Linked DNA regions of Homo sapiens. The protein of the gene in region 3 purifies or fractionates together with the protein of the main gene of each other region. This does not show direct contact. Each region holds a gene or a part of one and is shown on either strand. Other genes may lie near its edges.

Region 1 (5,254 bases), on a different chromosome or scaffold from region 3:
AATTGGCCCAGGTTTAATTTCATCCATCTCCATGAAAGCAAAACACTTGGTGCTGGTAAACCTTTTTTTAGGCTTGTAGTGTTTGAATTCAAAGAAGATAGCTGCACCTAAGGAATTAAAACAAGCCACATAAACCACAGATAGCACATTTCTTGTGTGTCAATTAATTTTCTTTGATCACCAGAAGCATATGAACAGCTACAGCTGGCATAATTTGACAAAACAACTTGTGCCAGTCTCAATGATTTGACAGTAACTTACTATGGTTGTCACCCCGAACTCTTCTGTATCTGAGTAGAGTGACATTTCTCCTTATCATCCAATTCTACAAACTATAGCAAAACTTCTTGAGCTAGACTGCCTCAAGAATGTATAACAGTTATGTACACAGGTAGAATCATAAGCTGCTATAAAATATGAAATGCCACAGAAGAACAGAGAAGATACTTCAATACACATAGAGACTCATTAGGTAGAAAATGCATTTAAAAGAGTTCCTAAAAAAATTTAAGCTCGAATTGTTTCCCTTACCCCAAAACAAAAACTCAAAAATTCAATCTTGGGGGTATTTTGGAATTCAAACAACATAAATCACATGCTGGCTCAGCTGGAAAATGTTATCTGTTTCCTTAACACCTTTTTCAGTATTCAAAGCACTGCTGTGATGTTTTTCCTGGAATTGCATGTTTGTGTCAAGACAGTGCTGTAGAAGACAAAGGTTCAAAGAGCAAATCTATTTATTCTGCCACTCTCCTCCAATGAGCAAGTGATAATGAGAAATTTAGACAGTTCTGGCCGGGTGCGGTGGCTCATGCCTGTAATCCCAGCACTTTGGGAGGCAGAGATGGGCAGATCACTTGAGCCCAGGAGTTTGAGACCAGCCTGGGCAACAAGGGGGTGGTAAGACCCCACCTCTACAAAAAAAATTTTAAAAATAGCCAGGCTCGGTGGCACGTGCCTGTACTCCCAGCTACTCGGGAGGCTGAGTTGGTAGGACTGCCTGAGCCCAGGGAGATTGAGGCTGCAGTGAGCCATGATCATGCCACTGTGCCCCAGCCTGTGTGACAAAGTGAGACTCTGTCTCAAAAAAAGAAAAAAATAAGAAATTTAGACGGTCCTATGTCCCCAAAGTCCAACAGATAAACTCTTCCCCCAATCCTGCAGAAAAAAGCTAAAAATGGAGAAATAAGTTGCCTCATCAATGTGGCCAACAAAAATGAATTTCTAAAGAAGGCATGGAAAGTGAAGGAAGTCAGTGTCTCACTCTTCACCAGCTACTTCTAAATACTGCCTTAACCAGAGCAGTCCAGGAGCTTGGCTTGCAAAGACAACATACATTTAATACTGCCGCTGATGACAAAACTCACAAGTCACTAGAAGTTTAGCAATGTTCAGAAATGTGTGTACAGCATTGGCACTTGGGTCCAAATGGACCACATCACATGGCAAGGGAGGAAAAAAAAACCAATTGCTCAGGAGACAATGGGATGTGGGTGAGGGAGAGATGGGCATATTTGGCCATCCACTCCCAACACGCTCGAAAGGATTACAATAGTTAGGTTACTGGTAACATCTCTTCCCTAGGTGTGTGACCTTGTCATTTCCACAAATGGTGGCTTCTCTTCTCCCTCCCACAGCACTCAGAGGCATTTTGTCATTAGAAAACCAAAGATTTTAAAGACAGCAGAGTCTTTTCTGCTAGGAAACCCATCTCCTCCTCATGATCGTGTCTTGAGGTCTGAATAAATGTGAATGATAAAGTCACGTTTCAAAACAATACTAAAGTTCAAATATGTTACCATCATTTTGAGGAAGTTAAACAAATTATTAATCTGTATCACCTGTAAATAATATATTTCCTGCATCCTTCATCATGCTTTTTATAAGAAAGAACAAAATGTGAAACAGGAATATCCTGGGAAGATTAAGTTAAAATGTTTGTAAACATGAAAGTATGGTCATTAACACTAATATCAGTTAAAACTACAGTAACAGTAAACAGTAAGTTTGAAGCTGGAAAAAATTAATAGAGTCAAATTTTGAATCTAGTTCTACTTTTATTATCTAGTGAGTCGAGCCATTAAGAAAGAACACAGTGTAATAAAATAGAAAAGTTAGCCCATGAAACACTCCACCTTCTCCCGTCCACATCACAAACATTTCCTAAGGCAATGGAGTTAAAGAAATGAAACAAATCAATAGTTTTGTTCAGAAGACATACTTTGTAACTGAAATTTCTTCAACGTTATTTATTAAGCACCTCCTACATACATAGTCTTCTAACACAGTGACTCTGGAGCTTTGGTGTATGTCAGAATCACCTAGAGGGCTTCCTAAAACAGACTGCTAGGCCCATCCCCATGGTTTCGGATTCAGGATGTCTGGGGTGGCCACCTAAGAAGGCTCCAGGTGCTGCTCCTGTTCCAGGAATCATACTCTGAGAACCACTGTTCTAACAGAAGCACTGAAAGGTCTTTTAGTGGGGGAACAGAGGAGGCAGCAGCACCAGACTTGAGAAGTGAAATATCGAATATTTCAGACGCCGAGGCAATCACTTCAAAAGGGACTTGAATATCCTACAGAGCTTGAACATTTCAGAAACTGCAACTGAACCCTCAGGTGATAAAGGGATTCTGAAGTCACCTTTTTGGAGAACACTCAAATTTCCACTGGGCGAAAAGCATGGGGAAGTATTTAATACTAAGAATCATACTTGGAAATGTAGCCTCACTATTTCAAAAATTTGCTTTTGTCCTTTCCTATTTCCTAACAATTAACTGCAAGTTAAGTTATCGTTCTACCAAACTAGAAATACTGGGAGAAAACCCTGGTTCTTAATTTGAAGATGAAAACTGAATCATCAGGGAACCTTCACGCACTCCTGCTTCTCCCAGCCCTTTAGTGTGTGAAAAACTTTGTTTTGTTGGTAAAGACAATAAAATTTTATTATCAAAGATTGTTTTACTATATAACAGTGCTATTAGACAAGTAGATAACACAATTCCTAATTTCTACATTTTAAAAATATGTATATTTATTCAAATCAATAAACACTATGTTACATTTACTTCTGCCAGATACTAACTATGCTAGGTCCACCATATGTACAAACACAAATAAGATGAGAATTCTGTCCATAAGAAGCCAAGTATTATTTAGGATTACAAACCTTTGGTTAATTTTTCAACATGCTTCTGGAGCTCAATGTCCACATTAAAATGAACATATGTATCTTCTTTTCTTGAAGCCACAGGAGTATCTTGCACAGGAGTTAAGTCTATGCCATTCAGATCTAAAGAGAAAAGAAGTTTCTCTTTAGGAACATTCAAATATACAGACTTAAAAACTGCAGGCCAGGCACGGTGGCTCACGCCTGTAATCCTAGCACTTTGGGAGGCCGAGGCGGGCAGATGACAAGGTCAGGAGATCAAGAACATCCTGGCTAACATGGTGAAACCCCGTCTCTACTAAAAATACAAAAAAAATTAGCCGGGTGTGGTGGCGGGCGCCTATAGTCCCAGCTACTCGGGAGGCTCAGGCAGGAGAATGGCGTGAACCCAGGAGGCGGAGCTTGCAGTGAGCCGAGATCGCACCACTGCACTCCAGCCTGGGCAAAAGAGCTAGACTCTGTCTCAAAAAAACAAAAACCTGCAAACTAGGTAGGGCACGGTGGCTCACACCTGTAACCCCAGAACTTTGGGAGGCTGAGGCGGGTGGATCACTTAAGGTCAGGAGTTCAAGACTAGCCTGACCAACATGGGGAAACCCCATCTCTACTAAAAATACAAAAAAAATTAGCCAGGCGTGGTGGTGCACACCTGTAATCCCAGCTACTTGGGAGGCTGAGGCAGGAGAATCTCTTGAATCCGGGAGGCAGAGGTTGCAGTGAGCCAAGATCGCGCCACTGCACTCCAGCCTGGGCAGTAAGAGTGAAACTCTGTGTCAAAAAAACAAAAAACAAACAAAAAAACCCTGTCAACTACAGGGCGTATATTTCATAAGGATGCTTGCAGAAAGGTAAGAGGAAATTCTTGGGCTAACAGAAATTCCCATTTGGTGTGAGCAGGTACCTGAAGAGTTGCAGGTGACCACAGAGGCATGTGGAGGGGGCTGAGTGAGGGGATGGGAGATTTCGCGGTGGGAAGGAGGAAACCTGTCTCAATCAGGTACAAAAGAAAGCTTGTAGAACACAAAATTTCATCTTTATAGGGAAGAAGTGAAAAGAACTTTTTGTTTTCCTTAGGAGATAGGCCACTATATTTTTGTCTGCAATAAAAACTTAGAATGTAAATAATATGCCTCAATGGGACCTTACCCCTAATTTCCAAACTTGATCAAGTGTATGGTTTGGAAAGACCTTTAAATCTAACATTATCAGAATCCCCCTGCTGTATTCAAGTCAAAGGACCAAAAATGGACATGAAAATTGCCAATGAAACCCTTCCATCAATGAATACGTTTTTACAAATATTATCTAAATTCTCATTATATTTGTTGTAACAACCTGTTTTATACCAACTAGAAAGAACACTAAGTTATTGTGTATGGTTTTAATTTCCTGGACCCAGGAATCTTCCAGTTTAATCAAATTCAACATGGACTCATTTAATGACTACTCAAGTGTTTATGTATTATTCAACAGATTTGTCTTAGAGAACTTAAAACAATATAGTACATTGATTGTTTCAGTTCTTAAAGATATTTACAAAAACATGTTTTAGTTCAACATGTATGCAAAGGTAACTTAACAGTTACTACACTATCATTAAACATCTTTTTGTTTTGGTGTACATTCCTGCATGAGTTACGCAGTTCTGTAAATGACCTATCAAACTATAATGTAGAGTATATATACTTTCCAGTAGGCCATATATTTGATACCTGATAACATCAGAAGTTAAAGTTTCACAGCATTAATGCTGTGGATCACGGTCTCCAAATAATCCCTCTCTGTGGCAGAATTCCTTTTTATTTTAATTGGTACTAATGAACTTTTGAATCTGAATTTATTTCTATGACTGACAAAAGTTCTCTTCATTTGATTTCAGCCCCTATCTGTTTCTCTGACTTGCCTCAAATTACAGATTAAAGTAAACCACTTGGATTAGCTGTGCAGTTGTTTCTGGATAGGAGTATGACAACTTCATTCTCAATCACCCAATAATTATTTTTAAAAGACTGTTAACTACTTCATAAATAAAGTACTGTATAAAATGTTTGGCAACAATAAAAGAATTCAACCAATGTGGTTTCC
Region 2 (5,265 bases), on a different chromosome or scaffold from region 3:
CCCGAGTCAGAGATGGAGGTGATGGAACTCGAGCTGGGGGCCGGGGTACGGCTGAAGACTCGGGGCGATGGTCCCTTCCTGGGTGAGCAATGCAACCCTCACTGTGGCCCACTGTTCCTGTGTGGCCCATGGGGGCTCTTGGCCTCCCTTCTGCCTAGAGCTCATGGGAGCAGGCAAGGGCTGGCCTCCATGGGGACACGACCAAGCCCTTGAGATTTACTCCTAAATCCCTGCACAAGTGCCCTAGGGCCATTGGGCTCGACAGCCTGGATCCCCGGGTGCCACCCAATCCCATGGTTCCTGTGAGCGACTCTCCCACCATACCTTGGGGGTCCCACCCAGGGGCTCATTGACCACATCTATGCCTGGAGAAAACAGTGGTTTAACCCAGGCCTAGGGGACCCCACCATAATGGGCCCAGCCCTCACTATGTTTCTGCCACAGGGACAGAGGACATTCAATTTCATCTCTTCTTTCAGATTCATTGGCCAAACTTGAGGCTGGAACAGTGACCAAGTGTAATTTCACTGGTGATGGAAAGACAGGGGCATCCTGGACAGACAACATCATGGCCCAAAAGTGTTCGAAGGGGGCTGCAGCGGAGATCCGAGAGCAGGGGGATGGGGCAGAGGACGAGGAGTGGGTAGGTACCTGGTGTTGGTGCAGTTGTATCTCCTGGCAGGAGCATGGTACATACTGGTTGAGGTTGTGGGTAGGATGAGAAGACGACAGGATGAATCTTACCCCCCAGCTTTAGTGGAATTCTGTGAAACACCTGGGAATGTGTTAGCATCAGGAGAATTCCTCTAAGGTATGAAGAATGACAACCTGGGACCTTTCTTGTAGGTGGCTCTGAACCTAACTATTCCCCAAAGATTCCCAAGTGGTAGGAAGGAGGGGGTGCAGAGGGATATTAATCATGGTCATTAAGTCTCAAAACATTTCTACTTCAAGTGAATACATTAACCATGCTGAGGCAGTTGAACAACTGAATGCGTAGTTTTTCCTCCTTTGGTTTGGGCTCCTTGCCTGAAGTGTCTGGAGAATGGCTGACCTGGTCCTTACTGGTTTTTCTTTTGATGAGAGTCAGTCCCCACGTTGATCCTCAGCCTATTCACAGTTGCTTTTCTTTTCATTTCTTTTCTCTTTTTTTGGGAGATGGAGTCTCATTCTGTTGCCCAGGCTGGAGTGCAGGGGCACGATCATGGCTCACTGCAGCCTCGAACTCCTGGGCTCAAATGATCCTCCCACCTCAGCCTCCCAAGTAGCTGGGACTATAGGCATGCATCACCACGCCTGGCTAATTTTTTTATTTTTTGTAGAGACGAGGTTTTGCCATGTTGCCCAGGTTCACAGTTGTTTTTCTGAAGTATATTTTACCCAAAGACTTGAATTGATGTCATAAGGCCCCAAAATGAACATTTATTATTTTATTTTATTTTATTTTTTTGAGACGGAGTTTCACTCTTATTGCCCAGGCTGGAGTGCAATGGCGCCATCTCAGGTCACTGCAACCTTTGCCTCCCGGGTTCAAGCAATTCTCCTGCCTCAGCCTCCCAAAGTGCTGGGATTACAGGCATGCGCCACCATGCCTGGCTAATTTTGTATTTTTAGTAGAGACGAGGTTTCTCCATGTTGGGCTGGTTGGTCTCGAATTCCCGACCTCGGGTGATCCACCTGCCTCAGGCTCCCAAAGTGCTGGGATTACGGGCTTGAGCCACCACACCTGGCCTCAAAATGAACATCTGAAGCAACGAAGTCACAGAAAAATGCACTATTTATCTAGGTAATGGAGATGATGTCTTTTGCCAGAGAAAGCAGGCGCACGCAGATGAGAGTGTCTGGATTCCTTTTTGTCTTCATAAAGCGAATCTTGGACTGAAAAACAGTCCAAGAGCTGTTGGAGCTGCCGGGCCAGCTCTAATGAGGCGCCCAGGCAAGCACTCATGGGCCCCACAGGTACCACGCAATTGAACCCTTGTTTGTCTGATAACTTGCAGTGACGTTTATGACATGTGCTGTCTCCACATCTCTTTACCCCTTGGATTTCTCTAGGATGACTGAGGGACGTGGCTGCCTCTGGGGGCACCAGCACCTTCTGTAGCATTGTGGAACATTTCTTCCATGAACTTCTACTCTGGAGCTGGAGAGAACAGTCTGCCAAGTCTTACCTGGTTCTTCCCCATAGCCACCTTGGAATACTCTTTGAACAAGCTCTGCTAAAACCAAACCCATGACCACTGTGTTGGTGGTGGGGCCTCATGCTGTGGCTCAGGGAGGGCCCCTCCCTGCATGTGAGTCTAGCCTTCCTAGACATTACATGATGACCCTTTAAAAAAAAATTAGAGATGGAGGTCTCACTATGTTGCCCAGGCTGATCTCAAACTCCTGGACTCAAGCGATCCACCCCCCTCCACCTCCCAAGGTGTTGGGATTACAGGCGTGAGCCACTGCACCCAGCCTCATGTTGACCCTGGCCCTGGATAGCAGCTTTGTTTGTAGAGGCAGGTGGTGGGAGAGACCCTAGGACAGCCTGAGAGTAACTGGACCTGGTATTGGTGCGGAGTGGGGAATATCCCTTGTCTAAATGCAGAGCAGCTGAGAGAAGTTAGCGGGGCTCTTCCTCCGTTCTCATTGTTTCCTGCTTTCCTTCCCCACCCACCCCTTCCTCAGCACTCTGTGTTGTAGCCTGTACTATCCTGCTTCAAGCCTCCGTGTCCCTTGTACCTTCCCCCTACCTTGAGTTGCCAGTTCTTTACTCCCTCAAATGTTCCCATGCCACCTCTGGGGTTTCTGTTATCTGACATCCCTGGCTGCTTTCCTGGTAGATGCCATTCCCAGAGAGGCCAACAGCGTTCCCAGGCGTGGCTGGCTGGTCCGCATCTCTCAGACTCACTCTGCCAGGCTACAGTTTTGAGAATACCTTTTTTGTTGTTGTTTTGTACCTGGAGAACTTTTTATGAATGAGTAAATCTTCAGAAAGGAATTCCTCCACCCTTACTGGGTTATTGTCAGGTGTAAACGGCCTTTCAGCTGAGCAATGTTCCTATGAGAAGGAAGCCATTTCTCTTGGCTCATGAACACTGCCTTTTGGGTAGTATACCCACACCCAGATCTGTGAAGAGACCTGGAATTGAAGTCTCCATGTCGTCAGGACTTGGTGGCATGTGGATCTTGCTTGACTTGGGAAAAGAGAGGGTGGTGGTGAACTAATAATTATGGAGTCCCCCTAATGTGTCGAACACAATGCTAGATGATTTCCATGATAATAATTACTCATACTTGTGCTAAGCACTTGCGATATCGTACTTCTCACAACAGTCCATGAGGTACTGATTATTATTCCCATTTTCTCATGAGACTAAAGCTCAGAGCTCTAGGATAGTATACAGTGGCAAGAGGAATTTACATCCAAGCACTCAGATTTCAAAGCCCACATTCTTAACTACCGGACTATTCATATTACAGAGCAGGAAAAGGGTCTCAGACAGGTTAAGCAACCTGCCCAGAGTCACACAGCTAATGAGTAGCAGAATCAGGATTCAAACCCAGAGCTGTCAAAAGCAAACCTTATGTTCCTTCCACTGTCCCCTGCTTCCTTGCCCTTCAGAAAGGTCTTGGAAACAGGGGCCAGAGGATGTGGTAGCCACTTCACTGGTGTTCTGTGTCTGAATGGGACTTTCTCACAGGCAGGCCATGCTGGGACCTCAGCCATGGGGGTGGCCAGGGAGGTGGTTGAGCAGAAGGATAGCTGGGGACACTGACTGGGGGTAGAGTCACCCAGTGTCTTTAGACATCCTGCTGTCTAAAGCACTGTGTCCAAAGGGTATGGCACACTTATATGGACAGGTCACCATTCCAAACAAGGAGGCCCAGTGTGTCAATAGGAGAGGTCCTAAAGCAACAAAAAGGGCGGGGTGTCTTGGATGGGCTTCAGGAAGGGAAAGACCATTGTGTCTGGAGCTCAGAGAATGGGGGCTGGTGTTTGAGATGAGGCTGGAGATTGGGCATGGCATCCTCACGCATGTTAAGGAATTGGGGACTTTATCCTTAACATCCTGGAAGCCAGTGATCCCATGGAGAGTGAGAAGATCTGATCTGTGTTTCAAAGGTCACTTGACTGCCGAGCAGCTGGAGGCGAGTTGCTCCTTTAGGAGACTGCTGCAGTTGCCTGGGTGAGAGGCTAGAGGGGTCTGGTCTATAGCAGTGGCAGGGGAGATGGAAAGAAGAGAATGATTTGAGGGGCATTCGGGGGGCAAAATCAACAGGACCTGGGGGGAGACGAAGGGATCAAGAATGATGCCCAGATTCTGGGTGAGTGGCAGTGCTGTGGTGCACAAGTAGTGATGTTATGTTTCCGGGTGACCTGCTGTTTAGCAGGAGCCCAGCCTGTGGCTAAGAAGTATAGAGAACTGAAACTAGCTCCCTAGGGATGGGAAAACCAAGTGGGCTGAGGATAAGAACAGGGCCCCAGGGCTGGGTGCAGTCGCTCACGCCTGTAATCTTAGCACTTTGGGAGGCCGAGGTGGGCGGATCACTTGAGGTCAGGAGTTCGAAACCAGCCTGATCAACACAGTGAAACCCCGTCTCTACCAAAAAATACAAAAATTACCCGGACATGGTGGCACATGCCTGTAGTTCCAGCGCCTTGGGAGGCTGAGGCATGAGAATTTCTTGAACCCGGGAGGTGGAGGTTGCAGTGAGCTGAGATTGCCACTGCACTCCAGCCTGGGCAACACAGTGAGACCCTGTCTCAAAAAAAAAAAAAAAAAAAAGAATAGGGTCCCAGGCTCAGCAGGTAGGGACACTGAGGTAAAATCCTATTCCCTAGGACTAGGGACTAGGAAGGGAGAAAATAGGAAGCTGCTGTGGCATAGGCATCTGCATGGGCAGATGGTGAGGCCAAAGCCCCTGATTTTGCCATACCTCCTGCCCTGGTCAGGACTGGTTCAGGCATTAGGGCAGGCCCAGCCAGGGCAGAAGCCTTCCTAGATACACCTGTGGGGAGTTGAGGAACTACAGCAGGGCTGAAACCCTGCTTTCAGGGGCCCCCATGTGGCTGGTAGGGGCAGCTTTTGGAAGCTAGACTGGATCCTATTACTCCCCAGATGAAAAGTTCAAATTCCTTAATACAACTCAGAGCTCATCACAATGTCACAACCCTCCTTTCTCGGCTCGCTTCCTCCTTAAGAGCTCTGGGGCGATTCTTTCAGACCAGCCTGAGGGATCTTCCACAGGTTGTTAATAGGGCTAGAAACAAAAAGT
Region 3 (4,504 bases):
GGCCAGCCTCAGCCCTCATCTGACTTTTTTTTTTTTTTTTGAGACAGTCTCACTCTGTCGCCCAGGCTGGAGTGCAGTGGCACAACCTTGGCTCACTGCAAGCTCCGCCTCCTGGGTTCACGCCATTCTCCTGCCTCAGCCTCTCCAGTAGCTGGGACTACAGGTGCCCGCCACCATGCCCAGCTAATTTTTTTTTTTGTATTTTTAGTAGAGACGGGGTTTCACCATGTTAGCCAGGATGGTCTTGATCTCCTGACCTCGTGATCCGCCCACCTCGGCCTCCCAAAGTGCTGGGATTACAGGCGTGAGCCACCGCACCCAGCTCATCTGTCTTTATTGTTGTTTTTTGTTTTGAGATGGAGTCTCACTCTGTTGCCCAGGCAGTGGCGCGATCTCAGCTCACTGCAACCTCTGTCTGCCGGGTTCAAGTGATTCTCCTGCCTCAGCCTCCCAAGTAGCTGGGATTACAGGCACCTGCCACCACGTCCATCTAATTTTTGTATTTTTAGTAGAGAAGGGGTTTCACCATGTTGCCCAGGCTGGTCTCGAACTCCTGACCTCAAGTGATCCACCCACCTCAGCCTCCCAAAGTGCTGGGATTACCGGCGTGAGCCACCACACCTGGCCTCATCTGTCTTCTCTTCCAGAGCCCAAAGTCTTTAATGGTGGCTTGGGCAGGAAGCTGCCAGTCAGTTCAGCCCAGCCTCTCTTCCCCACAGCCGGTAAGGGGTCTGCGGGGTCAGTGCGGGGCGGGCTTCCCAGGTGTGTGACCGTACAGTCACACAAGTCCCCACACTCCGAAGCGCCCTGTCTTTTAAGGTTCTGCTGTCTCTGTCTTGAAATTCTTAATGCCTTCGAGCACACTGTCCTGTTGCACGGGGCCCTGCAAATCTGTAGCTGGTCCTGGGTGGCTGTCAGGGCGGTGGGCATGGACTGGGGATCCCTGAGCCAGCTGCAGCTCCTGGTCCTGAACCCCCAGGGCTGGCAGACATGACGGCAGAGCTACAGAAGAAGCTGGAGAAGAGGCGGGCACTGGAGCACTGATTCGGACACACCAGGGACCAGCGGGCTAGTCCCAGGGCATGGCCCAGCGGCCAGATTCTTTTTCCCAGGATTAAAACTCTGACCCCAGGACCCATGTGTCTGGCTTGGCTTGGGGGATTAGGGGACGAGGGGTCCGTCAGATGTCTGCCTACGGATGGCCCCATTTACTCCCAGTGACCCTCAGCTCAGTGAAATCTACCACCATATTCTGTGAGAAAAGCCCATTTTACAGCTGGGAAGGATGAGGTCCCGGTGCCACACCCAGGCCCAAAGAACCAGCACCGCGGCCTCGCCTGGCCAGTGTCTGACCTTTATTAAGAGGTGAGGTGGGGAGAGGGCCCGCCAGGGTGCCCACTCCCTCTTGGTGACCCCCCCATCTGGAGTTAAGGCTCCAAGCAGCAAGTGACAGAGGAGGGTGCCTGGCTCCAGCAGCCTGGGCTTGGCGGCGACTCCCCCAAAAACACCCCAGCTGGGTGGGTGCCTGGGGGCCTAGGTGAGGCTGGTGTTGGAGCTGCTGGTAGCACTGCCTCGCTTTTGCAGGCAGCGCACAGCACTGGGGACCTGCAGGCCTGTCGTCACCTGGAAGCTGCCACACCATACCTGAGGGACAGCGGGGGGAGGGGGGAGGGGCTCAGCTTCAAACCCCAGCGCCCAGCACCACCCTCTCCTCCCCCTGGGCCGCGGAGGGCAGCTCACCGTGAAAGCAGGCAGCAGCGGCTGTGTGAACCTGGTCTTGAAAGTGTGCAGCACTTGTTTGGTGCGGGCATTGTAGAAGGACAGGAGGCCTGGGGTCGGGGGGCAGAGTGACAGTGGGACCGGTCAGAAGTGGGATGGGGGCAGACGGAGGGGACTCAGGCAGGGGCAGCCAGAGACGGCAGCTGGGGCTTGGGGTCACCTTGGTGGAAGTCACAGTGCACACCCAGGCAGTCGGGCACGGGGGCGTCCAGCACCTTGACCTTGTTGGCGTGCTTGGCCGTGAAGCTGACCTGCAGCCAATTGTTGACGTGCAGGCACCAGGAGGCGGCCGTCTTGCCCAGTTGCTCGAAGCGGCCCAGGCTGCGGTAGGCCACGCCCACGCCGAACGCCTTGCTGTCCGGCTCGTAGCGCACCTCCCAGTAATGCTCCCCGCCGTCGATCAGCGTGTCCCCTGTGGCGCAGGGCAGGAGGGGTGGGCAGGGGAACTGGATAGAACTGGGCCACAGATGCCCTTCCACAAAGGGCCAGCCCCCAAGGTGCTCCTTACACCACAGCTGCTCCCTGCAGAGACACTCCCCAGGTTCCTAGCTGTACCCCCCAGATACTCCTCAGGTTCCCAGCTATTCCCCTCAGGTACCCCTTGAACCCCAGCTATTCCCTTCAGATACGCCTCAAGTTCCTAGCTATTCCCTCCAGATACTCCTTGGGCCCCAGCTATTCCCTCCAGATACTCCTTGGGCCGCAGCTATTCCCCCCAGATACTCCTTGGGCCCCAGCTATTCCCTCCAGATACTCCTTGGGCCCCAGCTATTCCCTCCAGATACACCTTGGGCCACAGCTATTCCCTCCAGATACTCCTTGGGCCCCAGCTATTCCCTCCAGATACTCCTTCGGACCCAGCTATTCCCTCCAGATACTCCTCGGTTCCTGCTATATCCTCCAGATACTCCTCGGTTCCTGCTATTCCCTCCAGATACTCCTCGGTTCCTGCTATTCCCTCCAGATACTCCTTGGTTCCTGCTATTCCCTCCAGATACTCCTTGGGCTCCAGCTATTCCTCCCAGATACTCCTCGGGATCCCAGCTATCCCCTCCAGATACTTCTTGGGGACCCAGCTATCCGCCCCCCCAGATACTCCTCAGGATCCCAGCTATTCCCCCCAGATAATCATTGAGGACCCAGCTGTTCCTCTCAGATACTCCTTGGGCCCCAGCTAATTCTCCCAGATACTCCTTGAGGTCCAAGTTATCCCTCCCAGATACTCCTCGGGATCCCAGCTATCCCCTCCAGATACTTCTTGGGGACCCAGCTATTCCCCCCAGATATTCCTCAGGATCCCAGCTATTCCCCCCGATAATCCTTGAGGACCCAGCTGTTCCTCTCAGATACTCCTTGGGCCCCAGGTAATTCTCCCAGATACTCCTTGGGGTCCAAGTTATTCCTCCCAGATACTCCTCGGGATCCCAGCTATCCCCCCGCCAGATACTTCTTGGGGACCCAGCTATTCCCCCCAGATATTCCTCAGGATCCCAGCTATTCTTCCCAGATAATCCTTGAGGACCCAGCTATTTCTCCCAGATACTCCTTGGGGACCCAGCTATTTCCCCCAGATACTCCTCGGGATCCAAGTTATTCCTCCCAGATACTCCTCAGGGTCCCAGCTATTCCCCTCAGATACTCCTTGGGCCCCAGCTATTTCCCCCCAGATACTCCTTGGACTCCAGTTATTCCCTCCAAATACTTGGGTCCCAGCTATTCCCTCCAGATACTCCTTGGGCCCCAGTAATTCCCTTCAGATATGCCTCAGTCTCTGCTAGTCCCTCCAGATACTTCTCTGGCTTGAGCCATTCCTCCCAGATACTCCTCGGGGATCCAGCTATTTCCCCCAGATACTTCTCAGTCCCAGCTATTCCCCCCAGATACTCCTCAGTCCCAGCTATTTCCCCAGATACTCCTCAGTCCCAGCTATTCCCCTCCAGATACTCCTCAGTCCCAGCTATTTCCACAGATACTCCTCAGTCCCAGCTATTCCCCTCCAGATACTCCTCAGTCCCAGCTATTTCCCCAGATACTCCTCAGTCCCAGCTATTCCCCTCCAGATACTCCTCAGTCCCAGCTATTTCCACAGATACTCCTCAGTCCCAGCTATTCCCCTCCAGATACTCCTCAGTCCCAGCTGTTTCCCCCAGATACTCCTCAGTCCCAGCTATTCCCCCCAGATACTCCTCAGGCTGCAGTTATTCCCTCCAGATGCTCCTCAGGTCCCAGCTATTCCCCCCAGATACTCCTCAGTCCCAGCTATTCCCCTCCAGGTACTCCTCAGTCCCAGCTATTTCCCCAGATACTCCTCAGTCTCAGCTATTTCCCTCCAGATACTCCCCAGTCCCAGCGATTCCCCTCCAGATACTCCTCAGTCCCAGCTATTCCCCTCCAGATACTCCTCAGTCCCAACTATTTCCCCCAGATACTCCTCAGTCCCAGCGATTCCCCTCCAGATACTCCTCAGTCTCAGCTATTCCCCCCAGATACTCCTCAGTCCCAGCTATTTCCCCGGATACTCCTCAGTCCCAGCTATTCCCCTCCAGACACTCCTCAGTCCCAGCTATTTCCCCCAGATACTCCTCAGTCCCAGCGATTCCCCTCCAGATACTCCTCAGTCCCAGCTGTTTCCCCCAGATACTCCTCAGTCCCAGCTTTTCCCCCCAGATACTCCTCAGGCTGCAGCTATTCCCTCCAGATGCTCCTCAAGTCCCAGCTATTCCCT
Region 4 (4,911 bases), on a different chromosome or scaffold from region 3:
GCTGGGATTACAGGCGGGAGCCACCGCGCCCGGCGAAGATCAGCAGTCTCTTCACGTAACTCACAAGTTTATATAAATGCTGTCATTTTCTGAACAAATTGTTTCCCAGAAATGCAGCATTTTTAGTCTTTTTCCCTAACCCCAAACTAAGATGTATGGGTAAAACAGCTATAATCAGGATTATTGAGACTATAAAATTCTCTTTATAGAGATATAGGCAATTACCAACTCTTTTTTTTTTGAGACAGGGGCCTTGCTCTGTCACCCAGGCTGGAGTACAGCGGCACCATCTTGGCTCACTGCAACCTCTGCCTCCCAGGCTCGAGCCATCCTCCCGCCAAGCCCTAGAGATAGAGCTTCTGAAATTAACCACAGGCTTTTAAAAGTTTTCTTAGGCAATGCTTTGAGCATTTGCTATTAGTTCAAAGAAATATAAATGTTAGAACAAGACGAAACAGCCATATAGTGTAACAAATACATTTCAAAGTCATTGCCTCCCCTTCTCACCCAGAATATATATATATATATATATATTTTTTTTTTTTTTTTTTTTTTTTTTTTTTTTTTTCTTTTTGAGACAGGAGTCTTGCTCTGTCACCCAGGCTGGAGTGCAATGGCATGATCTTGTCTCACTGCAACCTTCACCTCCCGGGTTCAAACAATTCTTGTGCCTCAGCCTCCCAAGTAGCTGGGACTACAGACATGTGCCAGTACACCTGGCTGATTTTTTTTTGTATTTTAGTAGAGATGGGATTTCATCATGTTGCCCAGGCTGGTCTCCTGCCTGAGCTCAGGCAATCCGCCAGTCTCAGCCTCCCAGTGCTAGGATTACAGGTGTGAGCCACCACGCCTGGCCTTATTTTATGCTTTTTGATAGTAAACCATTATTGTGGCTGTTCCCTATGTTAGGGTACCTAAGATTCCAAATTAATTCACATAATGAAGTGATGCCTTACGACGTATTGCACTCTAAAAGGTTTCTTGGTTCACTTAACACAGAAATTCTGATCAGGTTTTTATTACTCCAGCAAGGTGTGTGTTCAAATCAGAACTGTTTCCCTGGGTCTGATAGAGAAACATTGATAAAGAAAATTATTCTGAACTTGATTTAGAAAGGGAAAACTTCCCCTAACTACTCAGGAGGCCGAAGCAGGAGAATCACTTGAACCTGGGAGGCAGAGGTTGCAGTGAGCTGAGATGGCGCCACTGCACTCCAGCCTGGAAGAAAGAGTGAGACTTGTCTCAAAAAAAAAAAAAAAAAAAAAAAAAAGGAAAACTTCATGTTTACTGCCCACACATTTCTAGAAACCTTCCTACTTTGGAGCTTTGTAATAAATTCAAAATGATGGCACAACACCATTAAAAGGTTTAAAACATTTATCACTAAAAATACTAAATGTTCTTTGAAAACCTATTAAGACATTTAAATATTCTTTTATGCTATCAAAAGACATTAAAATATTCTTTTACGCTGATCAAAAGAAAGAATAAAAGTTTAGGAAAGGGAAAAATGCACACTTTTTTTAAAAAGTTTATTTCTAGCCCTGAAAGAACAAAATTATTGAACAAAGTCAAAATACAGCAGTTAATGTCAATGTATAACAATTAAATAATTGAACGGGATTAAATTAAAAATAAAAGGCATAAAATTTGAAGACAACAGAAAAGACAAAAACTACTTTTGCTTAATTCCATTTCTATCAAAACAAGAAAAAAAAAGCCAATGCGTTCCAACCAAAGATGTTGAATTCCACACGTAACTGTTTCTCTTATTACTTCTGTTCTCTTAGAAACACTTCTAAGTTCTAAGAGAACAGAAGTGTGCTTGACAGAACTATCATCCATTTCTTTCTGCCTCTGTCTTGGCAGCTTTCTAGAGAAGTGAATGGGAAAGACTTCGGTTCTTTCAAGGCCAGGCCAGCGCTTGCTTCTTCTTTCGAACTCCAACCTCATCCACCACAGCATCTTTGCCAGAGTGTTCAATCAATGTGTTGACTGAGAAAAAAGAATGTGTGTATCTATTTTTTCTTATATACACACACTATCAAAAAACTGATTTTACCAGTTTCAATACCTACTGTGGGAGCAGCGGAGACAGGAAGACAATCTGCTTTTTGTATTACTATGAAGTTCCACTATAAAAAACCCCAAATGAGTATTAATCTGGATTTTAGCTATAATCTATAATATTTTGACACTGACATTTCACTAGATGTGGATCTCAGTATATTTTAAAAGATTTAGACTCAAAAATGGATGCAAATTCTTTAAGCATCTATTTTGTTTTTTTCTAATTTTAGCTACTACCTGATCAGATCTAAAATTATTCTGGCTAGAATACAGTATATACAAACATGTATTTAAGTGAGCCCTAAAAGAAATACTCATAGGTGGTTTAGAATCGCTTGTTAGAGGCACAGGTTCGTTTACAGTTGCTGGTTACTAGACTGTACGCAGCTGGACACTTCTATGTTAAAGGGAAGAGAATGAATACTATGTGCCAGGCAGTCAACACATGAAGACAGAGTTGTATTAGCCTCAGTGTCTTATGCTTCACAATTACTCGTTTACTTTCAGGTAGGATAAAATGTTCCATGTTTCATAGTTTCCCAGTTTTAATTGTCCCTAAAAGCAGCAGAAGAAAAAAGAAAAAGAGAAGATAACTTTAAATCTAAAATAAAATAAATAAGTACTATAATAATACTGTCCTAATAACACAAGAGGACTATTAAGGTAACTTTCAGATTTAAATGGGAATTTTCATTCTAAAGTGATGACAAAAAGGGTAAATATAAAAGGCAATTATTTAAAAAACATGAGGCCAGGTGCAGTGGCTCACGCCTGTAACTGCAGCACTTTGGGAGGCCAAGGTGGGCAGACTGCCTGAGCTCAGGAGTTGGAGACCAGCCTGGGCAATGTGGTGAGACTCTGTCTCTACTAAAAATACAAAAAAATAGCTGGGTGTGGTGGCGGGTGCCTGTGGTCTCAGCTACTCAGGAGGCTGAGGCATGAGAATTGCTTGAACCCAGGAAGCGGAGGTTGCAGTGAGCTGAGATCATGTCACTGCACTCCAGCCTGAGTGACAGAGTGAGACTCTGTATCAAAAAAAATAAAAATAAAAAACATGAATCTTGATTCAGATATAATTTTTCTTTCAACAAGTTCTGAATGTTTTAAAATTAATAAATCACAATTCTGTATTACTTTTAAGATTGTTTAAAAATGACACATTTCAAAATTAACCAAAGTATATTTCTGTTAGAGGTTAGTTTATCCACGTAACTTAAGAATAAACCACAGCGTAGCTCCCTTAACCAAAGAGCCAGGTTTTAATGACAAGTCAGTTGCCAGCAATGGACGTGCAGGTAACTATCGAAGAAGTCGCAACTACAAATCCCAAACTGCTTCTATCAATGGAAAAGCCCTTTGTTGAGTCACAAGCCTGAAACGAGGCGTTGGCACATAGTCAGTGAGGATGGTCTTTGACTTAGGAGGGAAGTGCCTCTGAGTACATGAGGATCACAGTCTTCTCATCTCGTTGGTTTTCTATTTCATTGGTAGCATCTTCTTTATCATAATCCATCCAACTGTTTACAAAGAATGGTAAAATTTGGAACTCAGGTGGCACTGCAGCTTTCTGCCAGAAATAAACCAGTTTCTATAATTCAGTAATAGCTGTAGAAGGCCAATATATTCCAGAGAAAAATGAAATCAAGAATTATATTGAAAACAGAGACCATTAAGTGCTCTAAATATGTTTCATTAATTATTTTACTCATTTTTCTGAAAATCTTGCCTTATCAATAAAAAACAGTCACTTCTCTCCTTATAATTGCATCTTATCATAGATATAGTGGAAATAAAATAATGGAAATAAAACCTGCCAGTTTCTCCAATGTATACTACAACAGCAAAATTATTTTTTATTCATGATTTATACTACTGCAGGATGGCAAGCAGGGGGGAAGTTAATGGGGGAAGGGGATGGTGGGAACAAAATGCCAGAACCAAACCACAGATACTTGAACAACACCCACTCCAAAAGCAAAACAATGAATAAAGGAGAAGAAGAGGAGAGGAAAAAAGAGAAGAGAAAAGGGAGGGGAGGGGAGAAGGGAGGGCACTCAAATAATTAATGCTACAGGTCTCAGACCTTTTAGAATCTTTAAAAGAAACAAATTATTGCTATCAACACGCACATTTCATTTTCCTTTCTCGTTTTTTACAATAGTCTCTACTTATTTGAAAAAACAAAACAAAACTAAACTAAAGTAACTCAACATCTCAAATGATCTATAAATTCATCAAGAAATACTCTGTCGCTCAAGTTCTCATAGATAATACCACACTGCTGACGACCTGGGGCAATGCCACCGCCGCCAAGTCTCTACAGTCGATTTGCTATCGGCTGCTTCTCTGTAACACTAACATTCTCTTTCATGAGTATAATCTCTTCTCACTGTATCAGAGCTCACCAAGGTTCACATCTCTTACTGCCTCTGCTGCTAGTCCCAAATATTTTTCTCCTTTAAGTGGAAAAAAGCTAATTTTTAAATTCCTGAAAATTCACTGGTTATTATATTATTTGCCATGGGAGGGGGTATCTGTGAGGTGAGAGAGGATTAATGAAAAAGAAAAAGAACAAACCTAAACCTAAAATTGCAACATATACAGAAATTTATTTCCAAATTGAAGGGGGAAAGGAGGGAAGAAGGTAGTGGCACTAACCAAAGTCACAAAGCCCAGGTTGGAACAACAACAAATCACTTTGGTTCCTAGAGCCAAGCCTGAAGGGGAAACAGGCAGAAGGGAAGACAAAATGGGAAGAAGTCTACAGTCAATGGGAATCTTTTTCTATCTCAATGATTTAGTTATAAATAGAGATTATTAGTCTTCTCTCTATACATGTAA

Evidence for each region. Proteins that work in one complex are often made in the same cells at the same time.
Region 1: the proteins of FSD1 (region 3) and AIDA purify together in Homo sapiens (affinity purification with mass spectrometry; 3 studies listed by BioGRID and IntAct, with this or other methods). This does not show direct contact.
Region 2: the proteins of FSD1 (region 3) and ARPIN purify together in Homo sapiens (affinity purification with mass spectrometry; 3 studies listed by BioGRID and IntAct, with this or other methods). This does not show direct contact.
Region 4: the proteins of FSD1 (region 3) and PAK2 purify together in Homo sapiens (affinity purification with mass spectrometry; 3 studies listed by BioGRID and IntAct, with this or other methods). This does not show direct contact.

What each region holds. Positions count from the first base shown.
Region 1 is NC_000001.11:222,670,144-222,675,397, forward strand, and holds part of AIDA (axin interactor, dorsalization-associated protein), read right to left. Parts: intron 3,293-5,254; coding exon 3,170-3,292; intron 108-3,169; coding exon 1-107. UniProt on the Homo sapiens protein: Acts as a ventralizing factor during embryogenesis. Inhibits axin-mediated JNK activation by binding axin and disrupting axin homodimerization. This in turn antagonizes a Wnt/beta-catenin-independent dorsalization pathway activated by AXIN/JNK-signaling.
Region 2 is NC_000015.10:89,898,594-89,903,858, reverse strand, and holds part of ARPIN (arpin), read left to right. Parts: coding exon 1-82; intron 83-479; coding exon 480-643; intron 644-2,055; coding exon 2,056-2,064; 3' UTR 2,065-5,265. Other genes in the region: ARPIN-AP3S2 (uncharacterized protein LOC100526783), read left to right, coding at 1-82, 480-643. UniProt on the Homo sapiens protein: Regulates actin polymerization by inhibiting the actin-nucleating activity of the Arp2/3 complex; the function is competitive with nucleation promoting factors.
Region 3 is NC_000019.10:4,320,673-4,325,176, reverse strand, and holds the end of FSD1 (fibronectin type III and SPRY domain-containing protein 1), read right to left. Parts: intron 2,192-4,504; coding exon 1,940-2,191; intron 1,830-1,939; coding exon 1,741-1,829; intron 1,645-1,740; coding exon 1,534-1,644; 3' UTR 1,341-1,533; downstream 1-1,340. Other genes in the region: STAP2 (signal-transducing adaptor protein 2), read left to right, coding at 510-722, 980-1,044. UniProt on the Homo sapiens protein: May be involved in microtubule organization and stabilization.
Region 4 is NC_000003.12:196,829,096-196,834,006, reverse strand, and holds the end of PAK2 (serine/threonine-protein kinase PAK 2), read right to left. Parts: 3' UTR 1,360-4,911; downstream 1-1,359. UniProt on the Homo sapiens protein: Serine/threonine protein kinase that plays a role in a variety of different signaling pathways including cytoskeleton regulation, cell motility, cell cycle progression, apoptosis or proliferation.